4 linked regions of the Homo sapiens genome follow. The protein of the gene in region 4 purifies or fractionates together with the protein of the main gene of each other region. This does not show direct contact. Each region holds a gene or a part of one and is shown on either strand. Other genes may lie near its edges.

Region 1 (2,534 bases), on a different chromosome or scaffold from region 4:
GGCCAAAAGGACAGCCCTTTCAGGGACATTAAATCAACTACATCATTGCTGGGTTTTCTATCGAAAACAGTCTCTTTAAAGTTTGGTTTTCATGTATCTGAATAAACCCTGGCCTAAACGGGTACTTCCTATATTCAATGAATATAGGTTAAATGAATATCTGTATGAATATGGGAAATGCAACTAATTACGTGGATATTTCCAAATTTGTTTGGAAATGCTTGAAAACAAGCAGCAGAGATCTGAGAAACACCAGCTCACTGTGGGTTTTTGTCTTTTTCTCCCCGTGCCCACCCCCAGGTATGAAGAGGAGATCAACAAACGCACAGCAGCCGAGAATGACTTTGTGGTCCTAAAGAAGGTAAGAGACGAAGGATGGTAGGGAGTGCCTTCAGGGTGCCCCTTCCCTTGGGGAGTGGTCTTTGGCTGAAGTCATGGGTTTGGTCCATCTCTGCCTCATCCCTGCTTCACTTGGAACTATCTAGATCTATATAGTCAAGGAAAGTGGGTAACCAAACCAGGTTCTAAGAAATTAAGGTTGGGAGGAAAGCCTATTTGCTTTTTTTTTTGAGATGGAGCTTCACTCTTTTTGCCCAGGCTGCAGTGCAATGGCGCGATCTTGGGTCACTGCAAGCTCCACCTACTGGGTTCAAGCGATTCTCCTGCCTCAGCCTCCCGAGTAGCTGGGATTACAGGCATGCACCACCACGCCTGGCTAATTTTGTATTTTTAGTAGAGACAGGGTTTTTCCATGTTGGTCAGGCTGGTCTCAAACTCCTGACCTCAGGTCATCCGCCTGCCTCAGCCTCCCAAAGTGCTGGGGTTACAGTTGTGAGCCACCGCACCCAGCTGATTTTTATTTTTATAAATTCATGGGGTACAAGTGTAATTTTGTTACGTGGATAGTTTGTGTTGTGGTGAAGTCAGGGCTTTTAGAGTATCCATTGCTGGGATAACATACATTATATCCAATAAGTAATTTCTCATTATCCAGCCCCTCCCAGCCCTCCCTTTTTCAAGTCTCCATTGTCTATCATTCCATGCTCTATGTCCACATGTACACATGATTTAGCTCCCACTTATAAGTGAGGACATGTGTTATTTGTCTTTCTGTGCCTGAGTTGTTTCACTTAAGATAATGGCCTCCAGTTCCATCCACATTGCTGCAAAAAGACATAATTTCATTCTCTTTTTATGGCTGAGTAGTATTCTATTGTGTATATGTATCATATTTTCTTTATCCAATCATCTGTTGATGGACACTTAGGTTGATTTGGTATCTTTGCTATTGTGAATTGTGCTGCGATAAACATGAGTGCAGGTATCCTTTTGTTACAATGATTTCTTTTCCTTTGAGTGGAATTCCAGCACTGGGATTGCTGGATCCAATGGTAGTTCTATTTTTAGTTCTTTGAGAGATCTCCATACTGTTAGAATAGCCTATTTGGATAATCAACTTCCATGTCTTCAGGTGGCTCTAGGGAAGAATATATAAAATAATTGGTCTCCCACCAGCTCCCCTGCTGCTGAGTAGTCTTTCCTAAATGCTGCTGAGAACACCTGTCGGTGTCACTTAGTAACCCGTCCTCCTACTGGCATTCCTGCTCCTCATCTCTTATCCTCCTTACTCCTCTGCAGGACGTGGATGCTGCCTACCTGAACAAGGTGGAGTTGGAGGCCAAGGTGGACAGTCTTAATGACGAGATCAACTTCCTGAAGGTCCTCTATGATGCGGTGAGGGCTCCATCCTCCCCTCCATCCAGGGAAAGGGAATCCCCCATCTGTGACGCTGCTGGTTGGGATTCACAGTTTTTTGAAAGGACTCCAGCTCCCTTATTTTAGGGCAGTGGGTTCTCATCAAGGTCATGCATAGAAAGGTTTGAAGTGGGAAATTCAACTGGGAGATTCTTAGAACCAGATGTGGTCTTGGTCTTAGACGGGGTGATTAGATCTAAAGAGTGCTTGGAATAGAATTCATTGCTGTCTAGCATTTTTTTTCTGGTGAAATGGATCCATTCCCTTCCCTTCCATTCCAACACACCGGCACTCACTGCATTAGAGTGGCTTATGGTTCCTGGGGACCAGTAAAGACTAGAAGCATTGCTCTTCCATCCTGAACTGTCACAACCACTTGATTTCTCCTTAGAACTTTACCTGTCTCTCCCCTTCCTACACATTGTGAATGCCAGCTCTGCTCCTACTTGAGCCTGTATCAGGTCAGTGAAGGCTTTCCTGGGGGGGCTGATGTGAGACATTTGCCCTGCAGGAGCTGTCCCAGATGCAGACCCATGTCAGCGACACGTCCGTGGTCCTTTCCATGGACAACAACCGCAACCTGGACCTGGACAGCATTATTGCCGAGGTCCGTGCCCAGTACGAGGAGATTGCCCAGAGGAGCAAGGCTGAGGCTGAAGCCCTGTACCAGACCAAGGTGGGTGGTATGGATCTCTCAGGAGATGGGGCTGGCTCTGGGGCTCTGCTTTTGATGTCTGTGAACAGGTGATCATTAGCTCAAGCCCAATAGAAGTCAGATA
Region 2 (3,500 bases), on a different chromosome or scaffold from region 4:
ACAATTAAATGTCATGTCACCCACCAGAATGCTGAAATGCGGCTTTTCCTAAATAGTGGATTCAGTAGATCTGCTAAGCACTGGAGATGTATTGGTGAGTAAAAAAGACCAAAATCATCTTGCCCTATGGAAGAGAACAAATACATAGTATTAATTTTTCCTCTGTAAGTGCCATGGGGAACAGTAAAACCAATGAGGGAAATTGAGGGATGTGGGGCTGTGTCAGTGCCCATGGAGGAGCCCACATGGGTATTTTCCCTTTTTTTTTTTTTTTTGAGACAGGGTCTTTGTCGCCCAGGGTGGAGTGCGGTGGCACAATCTTGACTCTCTGCAACCGCCGCCTCCTGAGCTGAAGCAATCCTCCTGCCTCAGCCTCCTGAGTAGCTGGGACTACAGGCATGCGCCACCACACCCAGCTAATTTTTGCATTTTTGTAGACAGGGGGTCTCACTCTGTTGCCCAGGGTGGTTTCAAACTCCTGGGCTCAAGTGACCTGAATGTCTCGGCCTCCCAAAGTACTGGTATTATAGGCATGAGCCACCACACCTGGCCCCTTGATGAATATCTTAATCAACTTTTACTCTCATTTTTCTGAATATCTTTTTTTTGTTTAACTTGTGGTTCTTGAATTTTTGTTGTGATTCTAGAGCCAATTTACTATCAGCAATTTCTAAAATCCCTACAAGTGACTTTTAACTTTGTGCAAAATCGGAGGCTCTGAAAAGCCACTTAATGGCTTTATAGTTTGTCCATGAATCATTGTTTTAAAATGACAGCTATCAGTGTGGCGGGTTTGGAATTTTAAATGATGAAAAATCAAATGTAGAGCAACAGAATCTAAGCTCTGTTTATTATGTGCATTAAAACTCATACAAGTTACAATTTTCCATTCTTTGCCTCATTTTATTGCCTTAAATATATCAGTGGTCAGTAAACATCTGAAATTCTGTAGATGAGATTGAAACTTTGGTTTTGGAAAAACATGCAGTAATATTTAGGCTGACTGGCCCATTTAGTAAATGAAGGGGTTCCAGTTTAATTTTTTTTTTTTTCTGGTGAAATCATGGTTATAATTCACTCATGTGGAAACTTAAGATTTGTGAACTGTCTCTTAGATGTTCGGTCTAAGAAGCAGATCACTTCCTATAATGTAATCACTTCTTCGAACAACAACAAAAAAGGGCTTCTAAAAATTGTGGTGAGTTTATTTAGCAAAGCACTATAAACCGAGGAACCTTTCTCCAAAAGTTCCAGGGGCAGAGAGGAGCTTTAGAATTCATACGGAATGCCACACATTTCCAGAGCATCTTAGGTTAGAGATGTGAGCAGGCTAGCACAAAGGGAAAAGGCCTACTAGAAAAACCTTGTTAAAACAATCGAGTTTAAGGAAGCAGTGAGGAAAAGGAGAGTAAGAAGTTGTCCCGGGTTGTTCAGCTAACAGGAACATGTAGATTTGAGACTCGATCATCTAAGTTTTTGTAGGCTGAAAGCAGTTGCAAGCCACAGATGTTAAGAAATTAGGCAAATGGATATTTTTAGTTAACCTACCTTGATGTTTTTATCATTTCTTTAGGCAGTAAATGGTCTTTGACTGAGTAGTACATGAAGTATCTTTCATTTGGGATTTAGTTTTATTGAGCCGCTTCAGTAATTCTGAGGCTGGGTGGTGGGTACATAGGTTTATTGCATTAGTCTTTCTTACCTTTTATGTCCTAAAAATACACATAATATATTTTTTAAATGTCCTTCCTGCCTGTTTCAGGAAAGCAGCTTTGGGTTGCAAAGCTGTTCTTATGAATACAATCTTCCCATCTCATTTCTTATTTCTGCTTGTGCCAGCAGTTTGCCTTATAACGCTGACTGCATGTGGAGTCTAGGTGCTGTTTAGCCAAGATGCTGTTGTCACTCACTTGCTTTTTGGTAATAGAAAGTACACTTACCTAATGTGTGCTCCTCCTTCATACTTCAGTCTGACACTGGAGGAGCCTTTAAAGGTTTTAAAGGTTTGGTGGTACCTTCTGGAGGAGGACGCTTTTCTGGATTTGGTAGTGGCGCTGGAGGGAAGCCTTTGGAAGGACTGTCGAATGGAAACAACATAACCAGTGCCCCTCCCTTCGCCAGTGCAAAGGCAGCGGCAGATCCCAAGGTAGCCTTTGGTAAGTAGCTCCCATCCCCCAGCCGCCTGTGTAAGTATCATCTATGGAAAATAGCTTTACAAAGATGTTTTTCTTATAGCTACCCTGTGTCTTGGAACTGTGTGAGCAAAACCAGGGTGATAATGAAAGAGATGGAACTTAGGGAGGTGTCGGTTACTTACAGAGTAAGTGGGTAGAGCACAGGCTTTTGATCCAAAACATCTCAGCTTTGTTCTCAGCTCTGCTGGCTACCAGTTGTGTGACCCTGGCCTCTAGGCCTCAGAATGTTCAATTTTGAAAGGAGAGTGGCCCTCAGAATTGACCTAGAGTCGAGAGAGAAAAGAAAATGCTATGTAGACCCTTTGTGTGCCAAGGGCTTTCTGTGTGCCTCGCACCAAACTGGCTACTGGGAACTCAGATGCGGTTCTCCGTGGCCAGGGTGCCTCCCACGCTAGGTTTGTTTGGGTATGGGATGTGTTGATTGCCTGATCCTGTTTTGAGGGAGTCAGTCAAAAACTCTTGGAATTAGCAACAGAGAATAGGATCACGGGTTAAAAGCTTGGAAATGATCCTGACTGGTTGGGTTGTATTTAGCTGATTATTCTGAGAGTATATACTGTTTGATTTTAATTTGGCAGAATGTTTAGTGTGATGTAAAATAAGTGTTCTCTGTTAAGTTTTGTTGTTGTTGTTGTTTTTTCTAAGTTGGAGTCTTGCTCTGTCACCAGGATGGAATGCAGTGGCGCGACCTCTGCTCACTGCAGCCTCCGCCTCTGGGTTTAAGCGATTCTCCTGCCTCAGCCTCCCGAGTAGCTGGGACTACAGGCATGCACCACCATGCCCAGCTAATTTTTGTAATTTTAGTAGAGACGGGGTTTCACCATGTTGGCCAGGATGGTCTTGATCTCTTGACCTTGTGATCCACCTGCCTTGGCCTCCCAAAGTGCTGGGATTACATCCGCGAGCCACTGTGCCCGGCCTCTGTTAAGATTTTTAACTACAGCCATCCCCTAGTATCCTGGGGATTGGTTTCAGCACCCCCTTGGATGTTCAAGTCCCATAGTCAGACCAGCATAACTCTTAGATAGGAAAAGTGAGTGTTCGTATCCACTGGTTTCTCATCCCCAGAGTACTGCATTGAGACAGGGTCTCGCTCTGTCACCTAGGCTGGAGTGTATTGGTGTGGTCTTGGCTCACTGCAGCCACAACCTCCCGAGCTCAAGTGATCCTCCCCCATCAGCCTCCCCAGTAGCTGGGATTATAGGTACACACCACCACACTCAGCTAATTTTTACATTTTTTGTAGAGATGGGGTTTTGCCATGTTGCCCAGGCTGGTCTCAAACTCCTGAGCTCAAGCGATTTG
Region 3 (3,932 bases), on a different chromosome or scaffold from region 4:
AATTCCTGGGGGAACTCCCTGAGGCAAGACTGCGCCTGGCAATTTGTAAGAAGGGGGCTGGTGCGACCTGAGCAGAGAGCTAATGGGAGGGTGAGGGAAGCCAAGGGAGATGGGGTGGGAGGTGGGAGGAGTCTTGCGGGACAATGGGAACCCAGGGGAGGCGTTAGAGCAGGGGAGGTGCATCGCGCACTGGGATTTAGGTCCCAGCAAGGTCGCTGGGGGGATGCCTTTTAGGGAATGGACTCTGTGGTCAACTACTCCTACCTGAACTGCCCCCAAAGCATTTGCTTTTCCCTCTCCACAGTCAGGACCAGTGTAACCTTAGACCCCTAATACTGCCATTTTTACTGTTGAGAACACCGAGAAGTAGTAAATGCAGAAAATCTAAAGTATAGTGCCTAAGACAAATTGGCGCCTCAAACCTAATTTCTAAATAAAATTAATAAATAATATTGCAGAAGTGGGGAGCAGGTCAGCAATCCAGGAAGAGGCACTGGCAGGAGCAAGAGACGGAATTTGAGCCTACTCGCGGTTATGAGCCTACTCGCGGTTACATTTTGGCCAAACTCAATTCCTGGTCTCTCTGAGCCTCGGTTTCCCTACCTGGACTGCGCGGTGTGTGTTAATTTCTCTGCCCCATTTATCTCCCCTCTCCTAGCCCCGCCCCAGCGTCACCAGTGGGACGCAGAGACTCAGGACTAGGAAAGCACTTTTAAAGCGTTAAGGGATTGCGAAGAGCTACGGAGAGGCTTCCTCAGGGCTATACTGGGTCCACCTCCCCTCATGGACCGCGGGCGCGCTCTGGCGGCCGGGCCGCTCCAGGCTGAAGCCGCCGGACCACGTGTGTAGTCGCAGCTGCCATCTTTCATCCGGGCATCGGCCATCTTGGTAAAGGCAATGTTCTAGATTTTCGCCTCTGCCCGCCCCTCCTGGTTCATCAACATATTAAATGAGCGTAGGGAATGAGGGCGTATTAAGTGTCCTCTTTTTGAAGAGACAAAGAAGTGGCTGACTACCCTGGCTTGGGTCCGAGGCCCAGCCATCTTTTTCTTTACCAAAATGGCGGCGGTACTGAGGCGCAATGAGTGCGCGCCGCCAGGAGCTCAGCGCGCAGGCCCCATGATGACGTCACGGAGGCGCGACCGGGCCGGCGCTGGGGTAAGAAGGTAGGAGCGTCTGCGGCGCGGGCGGAACCCGGGTTCGGGGAGCAGAGGCGCGGGGCGGGGGCTGCTTGGCCTGGGACCATCCCCTGGGAAGGCTGGAGGAGGGGTGCTGGGAGGCAGGAGCACTTCTGGCGTCCAGTCTGAACCGCACCTAGTTGGGGGCGATGCCCATTTCCAGACTAGACGATTGAAGCCCGACGCGACAGCATGTTCGAGGCCACCTGGCCCCGGACTGCCCCTAGGCAGCTTCTGGTCTCGAGAGGGACAGAGTTGGGCGCGGACTCCCCCGGCCTCTTGTAGGGGGATTAGTGGTGGGGGACTTCAAAAGGGATAGCCGGGAGGGCTGCTTAGAGGAGGCATTGTTGAATTTTGTATTCTGTTATTTTACCTTCACATCCGTGGGGTCTTAATCCCCATGGGTCTTGATTCGCTTCTAAGTGTGCCCCTCGCCCAGCCTGAGCCACTCCCTGGGTACCGCCTGGGCTCCCAGCTCCTGCCATCTGGGGAGTCCACCTCCTCACTAACCCCAGAGGGCTTGTGTGACCCATAGATTGGGCTTCCCGGCTCTAACGCCCTCCACACCTTCCCATCTCCCTGGAATACAAATCGCCCCCTTTTCCAGCCTACCTCCTGCATCCCGCGTGCAGGCTGCGCTCTCCCCCACTCATTCAGACTTTTCCTTAGATGTCTCCTTTAGGAAGCCCTTTGACCCAGGCTGGGTCAGAAGCCCTCTCCGGGCTTCCCCGGCGCCCTGCGTGTCCTTATTAGGACTCTGATTGCATGTGTTGGCTCTTCTCTGGGAGTCCCATGCAGGCAGAAAGCTCATTTGTGCCACCTCTTTCCCCAGCATCGCACACGTATTAGGTGCCCAGTACATATTTATTGAATGACGTGTGCAAGTGAGTGAGTGTTTACTACACAGAGAAAAGTGTCTGTATTTCCAGCTTGGGCTGTCATAACTAATACCACAGACTGGGTGGCTTAAACAGCAGAAATTGCCAGGCACTGTGGCTCACACCTGTAATCCAGGCACTTTGAGAGGCCGAGGCAAGCGGATCACTTGAGGTCAAGAGTTTGAGACCAGCCTGGCCAACATAGTGAAACCCCGTCTCTACTAAAAATACAAAAATCAGATAGGCATGGTGGCACATGCCAACATGGTGAAACCCCATCTCTATAAAAATACAAAAATTAGCCGGGCGTGGTGGCAGGTGCCTGTAATCCTAGCTGCTTGGGAGGCTGAAACAGGAGAATTGCTTGAACCGGGTGGGTGGAGGTTGCAGTGAGCCGAGATTGTGCCACTGCATTCCAGCCTGGGTGAAAGAGCAAAACTCCGTCTCAAAACAAAAAAAAGCCCCAACGTGGAAACAGCCCAAATGTCTAGCTGTGGACAATGGATAAACAAAATGTGGCGTATCCATGCAGTGGAGGAATATTCAGCCATAAAAAGGAACGAAGGGCCAGGCGCAGTGGCTCAGGCCTGTAATCCCAGCACTTTGGAAGGCCGAGGCGGGAGGATCACTTGAGCCCAGGAGTTCAAGGCCAGCCTGGGCAACATAGTCAGACCCTGCCTTAAAAAAAAAAAAAAAAAGCTAGGCATGGTGGCCTGCACCTATAGTCCCAGCTACTTAGGAGGCTCAGGTGGGAGGATCACTTGAGCCCAGGAGGTCAAGGCTGCAGTAAGCCGAGATTTCGCCACTGCACTCCAGCCTGGGCGACAGAGTGAGACCCTGTCTCCAAAATAAATAAATAAATGTACTCTCACACTGTGTGGCCTTTTGTGTCTGGCTTCTTTCACTTAGTATTGTGTTGTTGAGGTTCAACCACATTGTATCATGTATGTATTGGTGCCTTGTTTCCTTGTTTCCTTTTTTTTTTTTTCTTTTAAGAGACAGGGTCTTGTTCTGTTGCCCAGGCTGGAGTGCAGTGGCACAATCATAGCTCACTGTGGCCTCAGCCTCCTACGCTCAGGCGATCCTTCCACCTCAGCCTCCTAAGTAGCTGGAACTACAGGCACAAGCCACTGTGCCTAATTATTTTTTATTTTGTAGAGACGGACTCTTGCTATGTTGCCCAGGCTGGTCTTGAACTCCTGGCCTCAAGCAATCCTCCTGCCTCAGCCTCCCAAAGCACGGGGATTACAAACGTGAGTGATCGCACCCGGCCTGTGATTCCATTGATATGGACTGAAATGTCCAGAACAGGGAAAGCCACAGAGACAGAAAGCAGATTGATGGTTACCAGGGGCTAGGGGAAGAGGAATAGGGAGTGACTGCTGATGGTGATGTGGCCTCTTTTGGGGGGTGCAAGTGTTCTGGAACTAGACAGAGGTGGTATTTGCACAACGCTGTGAATATACTTAAACACTGAATTGTACACCTTTTTTTTTTTTTGAGATGGAGTCTCGCTCTGTCGCCTAGGCTGGAGTGCAGTGGTGTGATCTCAGCTCATTGCAACCTCCGCCTCCCGGGTTCAAGTGATTCTCCTGCCTCAGCCTCCCGAGTAGCTGGGATTATAGGCATGTGCCACCACACCCAGCTTTTTGGTTTTTTTTGAGAGTGAGTCTCACTCTGCCGCCTAGGCTGGAGTGCAGTTGCACGATCTCGGCTCACTGCAACCTCTGCCTCCCAGGTTCAAGCGGCTTTCCTGCCTCAGCCTCCTGAGTAGCTGGGATTAAAGGTGTCCGCCACCACACCCAGCAATTTTTATTTATTTTTAGTTGACACGGGGTTTCACCATGTTGACTAGACTGGTTTTGAACTCCTGACC
Region 4 (3,500 bases):
TTATTCTCAAGGAAAAAGGATGAAAACACCACCGGTCTAATTTCTTTTCTTTTTTTTTTTTTTTTTTTTTGAGACGGAGTCTCACTCTGTCGCCCACCAGGCTGGAGTGCAGTAGCGCGATCTCGGCTCACTGCAAGCTCTGCCTCCCGGCTCATGCCATTCTCCTGCCTCAGCCTCCTGAGTAGCTGGGACTACAAGCGCCCGCCACCACGCCTGGCTAATTTTTTGTATTTTTTTTAGTAGAGACGGGGTTTCACTGTGTTAGCCAGGATGGTCTCAATCTCCTGACCTCATGATCCTCCCGCCTCGGCCTCCCAAAGTGCTGGGATTACAGGCGTGAGCCACTGCGCCTGGCCACCACCGGTCTAATTTCAACACTGCAAGACAATGATTCCATCTTGCTGTTGGAACATTCTTCTCATGTTTGACACCGTTCCAAGGCACCAGCTTTGAACTAAAGATACACATATCTTTTATTTAAAGTACAGCAGAGCTAAATGAACACTGGCAAGTATCTCTTTGTAGACTACAGATGTTCCTTAATTAGGATGGGATTATGTCCAATAAACCCATTGTAAATTGAAAATACTTAGGTCAAAAATGCACTGAGGCCAGGCACAGGGGCTCATGCCTGTAATCCCAGCACTTGGGGAGGCCAAGGCGGGTGGATCACCTGAGGTCAGGAGTTGGAGACCAGCCTGGTCAACATGGTGAAATCCCATCTCTATTAAAAACACAAAAAGTTACTCGGGCATGGTGGCAGGTGCCTGTAATCCCAGCTACTCGGGAGGCTGAGGCAGGAGAATTGCTTAAACCCAGGAGGCGGAGGCTGCAGTGACCTGAGATCGCGCCACTGCATTCCAGCCCAGGTGGGAGAGTGAAACTCTGTCTCAAAAAAAAAAAAAAAAAAAGCATTGAATACACGTAATCTACCTAACATCATAGCTTAGCCTAGCCTGCCTTAAATGTGCTCAGAACACTTACATTAGCCTACAGTTGGGCAAACTCAGCTGGCAACACAGTGCCCTGTAGAGCAGGGGTCATTCCCCCTTCTCATGATGTGGCTGACGAGGAGCTATCTGGCATCTCGAGAGTATCTGGAGGCATACTGCTAGCCCAGAAAAAGATCAAAATTCAAAACGTCAAGTATGGTTTCCATAGAATGCATACTGCTTTCACACTATCGTAAAGTCAAAAAATTGTAAGTCAAACCATGGTAGTTTGGAGACCATCTGTACTTCAGAAGAATGTGGCGTATGTCATCAGGAAAAGGACCATATTGTTGAATCAGTAACAGTCTGCAGTAACAGAATCTGGAAGCTGAGAAACTTCTAGGATGTCTAGTTTCCCATATTAAAAATATAAATGGTAAAGGAATGAGAGAAGTATAGATAAGGAAGAAAAGGAAAAAGGCTCCCTCTGAAAGCAGGGTCACGAGGCCTGAGCGGCTGTGAAGTTGAGGGATTTTCATCACGGACGCAGTAAAATGCACAGCAGGTGTATTTCTTAGGTTTATCACCAAACTTTATAGGCAAGGAAGCCAACTTCAGAGTGAAGGGAATAAGAGGTGTTCCATTAAGTTCAAATACACCACCACACCTCCAGCTATAACTGTGAAAATTACAGGTGTGTGGCCTCAGATTGCTCACTGTATAAACCATCAAGGAGACCAGGAAACCCCAGGGGAGCAAATCCAAGGAGCAATCACGGTGCTTGGCAGTGAACAGGAGTGGCGCAGCCACGGCGAACGTGACCCATGAGGTCCCTAAGGAGGGCTCCCACACCGTGCCCCAAGCTGCTCTGCTCCTCCGTCCAGAGAAACGCACTCCGGCCCTCCCCGAGAATCCTGCCCTCTGTTGGGAGCGAGTCATACATTCCCCTAGGGCTAGTGGCGGACACTCTGAAAACATGATCCCTTGCTTCTCCCACCACACTGCACCCTCCTCTCGGTACTGTGGAGGACGCTGCAAGTGGGGAGTGTCCACACGTCACACCTGGAGCACGTTCCTGACAGCTGGAGCGCCAGCTGTGGAGTCAGAAGTCTGAGCCCACCACTGAGCAGTCACGCAACCTTACAGGCTAGTGACCTTCTTGTGACTTGGTGTCCTCACTGTGAAACGGACAAGTCAAGGTGCAGGAAAAGCTCTAAACTGCACGGGAGCAGTAACCACTCTTTCAGGGCCAGCCTTCTCAGATCACTGAAACGGGTGAGCAGTCACGAACCGGCATGGATGGGAGGTATTCTGTAAGCAGAGGTGCAGCACAGAGTACAAGGTCAACAGAGACCCAACCAAACATGAGTCTCTTTACTAACACTGAATCCAACATAACGTCCTTTCCTCCAAGAGTGACTGCATTTAGAGAGCAAGAGCCTGCCCCCGGCCTCACGGGCTGGCTCCAAGGACCAAAGAGACCTGCAGCGATTCCTACAAAAGAGCCAATAAAGACTCTCAGACTCGCATCTCTTCAGTTATGAGGAGGTCTTCCCTGTACTCTAGGGGCCCCACACTGTCCCTCTCATGCTGGAGGACAGGAAGGAATGCCCTCGGCAGGCCCTCCGAGCAGAACTCACCCCTCCTGGACACCCTCGCAGCTCCAGCTGAAGAGGAAGACACAATGAGGAGCCATGGACTGAGGCATCAGAACGGTACAAAGACCTCCCTGACCTTCCAGATCTTACTTTATAATGGAGGAAGATAACTTTTTTGGAATTAACACTTCTAATTTCTTTCTTTTTTTTTTTTTGAGATGGAGTTTTGCTCGTCACCCAGGCTGGAGTGCAATGGCACGATCTCGGCTCACTGCAACCTCCGCCTCCCGGTTTCAAGCGATTCTCCTGCCTCAGCCTCCCGAGTAGCTGGGATTACAGGTGTGTGCCACCACGCCTGGCTAATTTTGTATTTTTAGTAGAGATGGGTTTCTCCCATGTTGGTCAGGCTGGTCTCGAACTCCTCATCTCAGATGATCCGCCCACATCAGCTTCCGAAAGTGCTGGGATTACAGGCATGAGCCACCGCAACCGGCCGACACTTCTGATTTCTACTGAGGTTTGGTTCTGGAGTCTGACAGCCTGCTCGATAGCTACAGGCAGACCGCGCCCGGCCAACACTTCTGATTCCTACTGAGGTTTGTTTCTGGAGTCTGAGAGCCTGGTCGATAGCTACAGGACAGACACAGGCCTGGACTTCTTCCAGCCTCAGTCTCCTCACCCATGAAATGGGGCACAGCCACCAGTTTTCCAAGTGGGGTGAGAACCCACAATGGGTGCAAAACTAACGCTCACAATCACTAACATCTGCAGATCGACCAACACGATGATTCCATTCCCAAACGTTCCTTCTGGCTCTGTCACCCAAGGGTCTGGCTCTGTCACCCAAGCTGGAGTGCAGTGGTGTGATCTCAGCTCACTGCAACCTCCCCCTTCCGGCCTCAAGGGATCCTCCCACCTCAGCCTCCTGAGTAGCTGGGACTACAGGCATGCACCGTCATGCCTAATTTTT

The links. The genes of interacting proteins can lie anywhere in the genome.
Region 1: the proteins of ATG4B (region 4) and KRT4 purify together in Homo sapiens (affinity purification with mass spectrometry; one large-scale study listed by BioGRID and IntAct). This does not show direct contact.
Region 2: the proteins of ATG4B (region 4) and NUP50 purify together in Homo sapiens (affinity purification with mass spectrometry; one large-scale study listed by BioGRID and IntAct). This does not show direct contact.
Region 3: the proteins of ATG4B (region 4) and CCDC124 purify together in Homo sapiens (affinity purification with mass spectrometry; one large-scale study listed by BioGRID and IntAct). This does not show direct contact.

Annotation. Positions count from the first base shown.
Region 1 is NC_000012.12:52,808,583-52,811,116, reverse strand, and holds part of KRT4 (keratin, type II cytoskeletal 4), read left to right. Parts: intron 1-300; coding exon 301-361; intron 362-1,638; coding exon 1,639-1,734; intron 1,735-2,266; coding exon 2,267-2,431; intron 2,432-2,534.
Region 2 is NC_000022.11:45,173,925-45,177,424, forward strand, and holds part of NUP50 (nuclear pore complex protein Nup50), read left to right. Parts: intron 1-1,969; coding exon 1,970-2,156; intron 2,157-2,317; exon of another isoform or gene 2,318-2,458; intron 2,459-3,500. UniProt on the Homo sapiens protein: Component of the nuclear pore complex that has a direct role in nuclear protein import. Actively displaces NLSs from importin-alpha, and facilitates disassembly of the importin-alpha:beta-cargo complex and importin recycling.
Region 3 is NC_000019.10:17,931,883-17,935,814, forward strand, and holds the start of CCDC124 (coiled-coil domain-containing protein 124), read left to right. Parts: upstream 1-1,132; 5' UTR 1,133-1,166; intron 1,167-3,213; exon of another isoform or gene 3,214-3,309; intron 3,310-3,932. UniProt on the Homo sapiens protein: Ribosome-binding protein involved in ribosome hibernation: associates with translationally inactive ribosomes and stabilizes the nonrotated conformation of the 80S ribosome, thereby promoting ribosome preservation and storage.
Region 4 is NC_000002.12:241,644,193-241,647,692, reverse strand, and holds part of ATG4B (cysteine protease ATG4B), read right to left. Parts: intron 1-3,500. UniProt on the Homo sapiens protein: Cysteine protease that plays a key role in autophagy by mediating both proteolytic activation and delipidation of ATG8 family proteins. Required for canonical autophagy (macroautophagy), non-canonical autophagy as well as for mitophagy.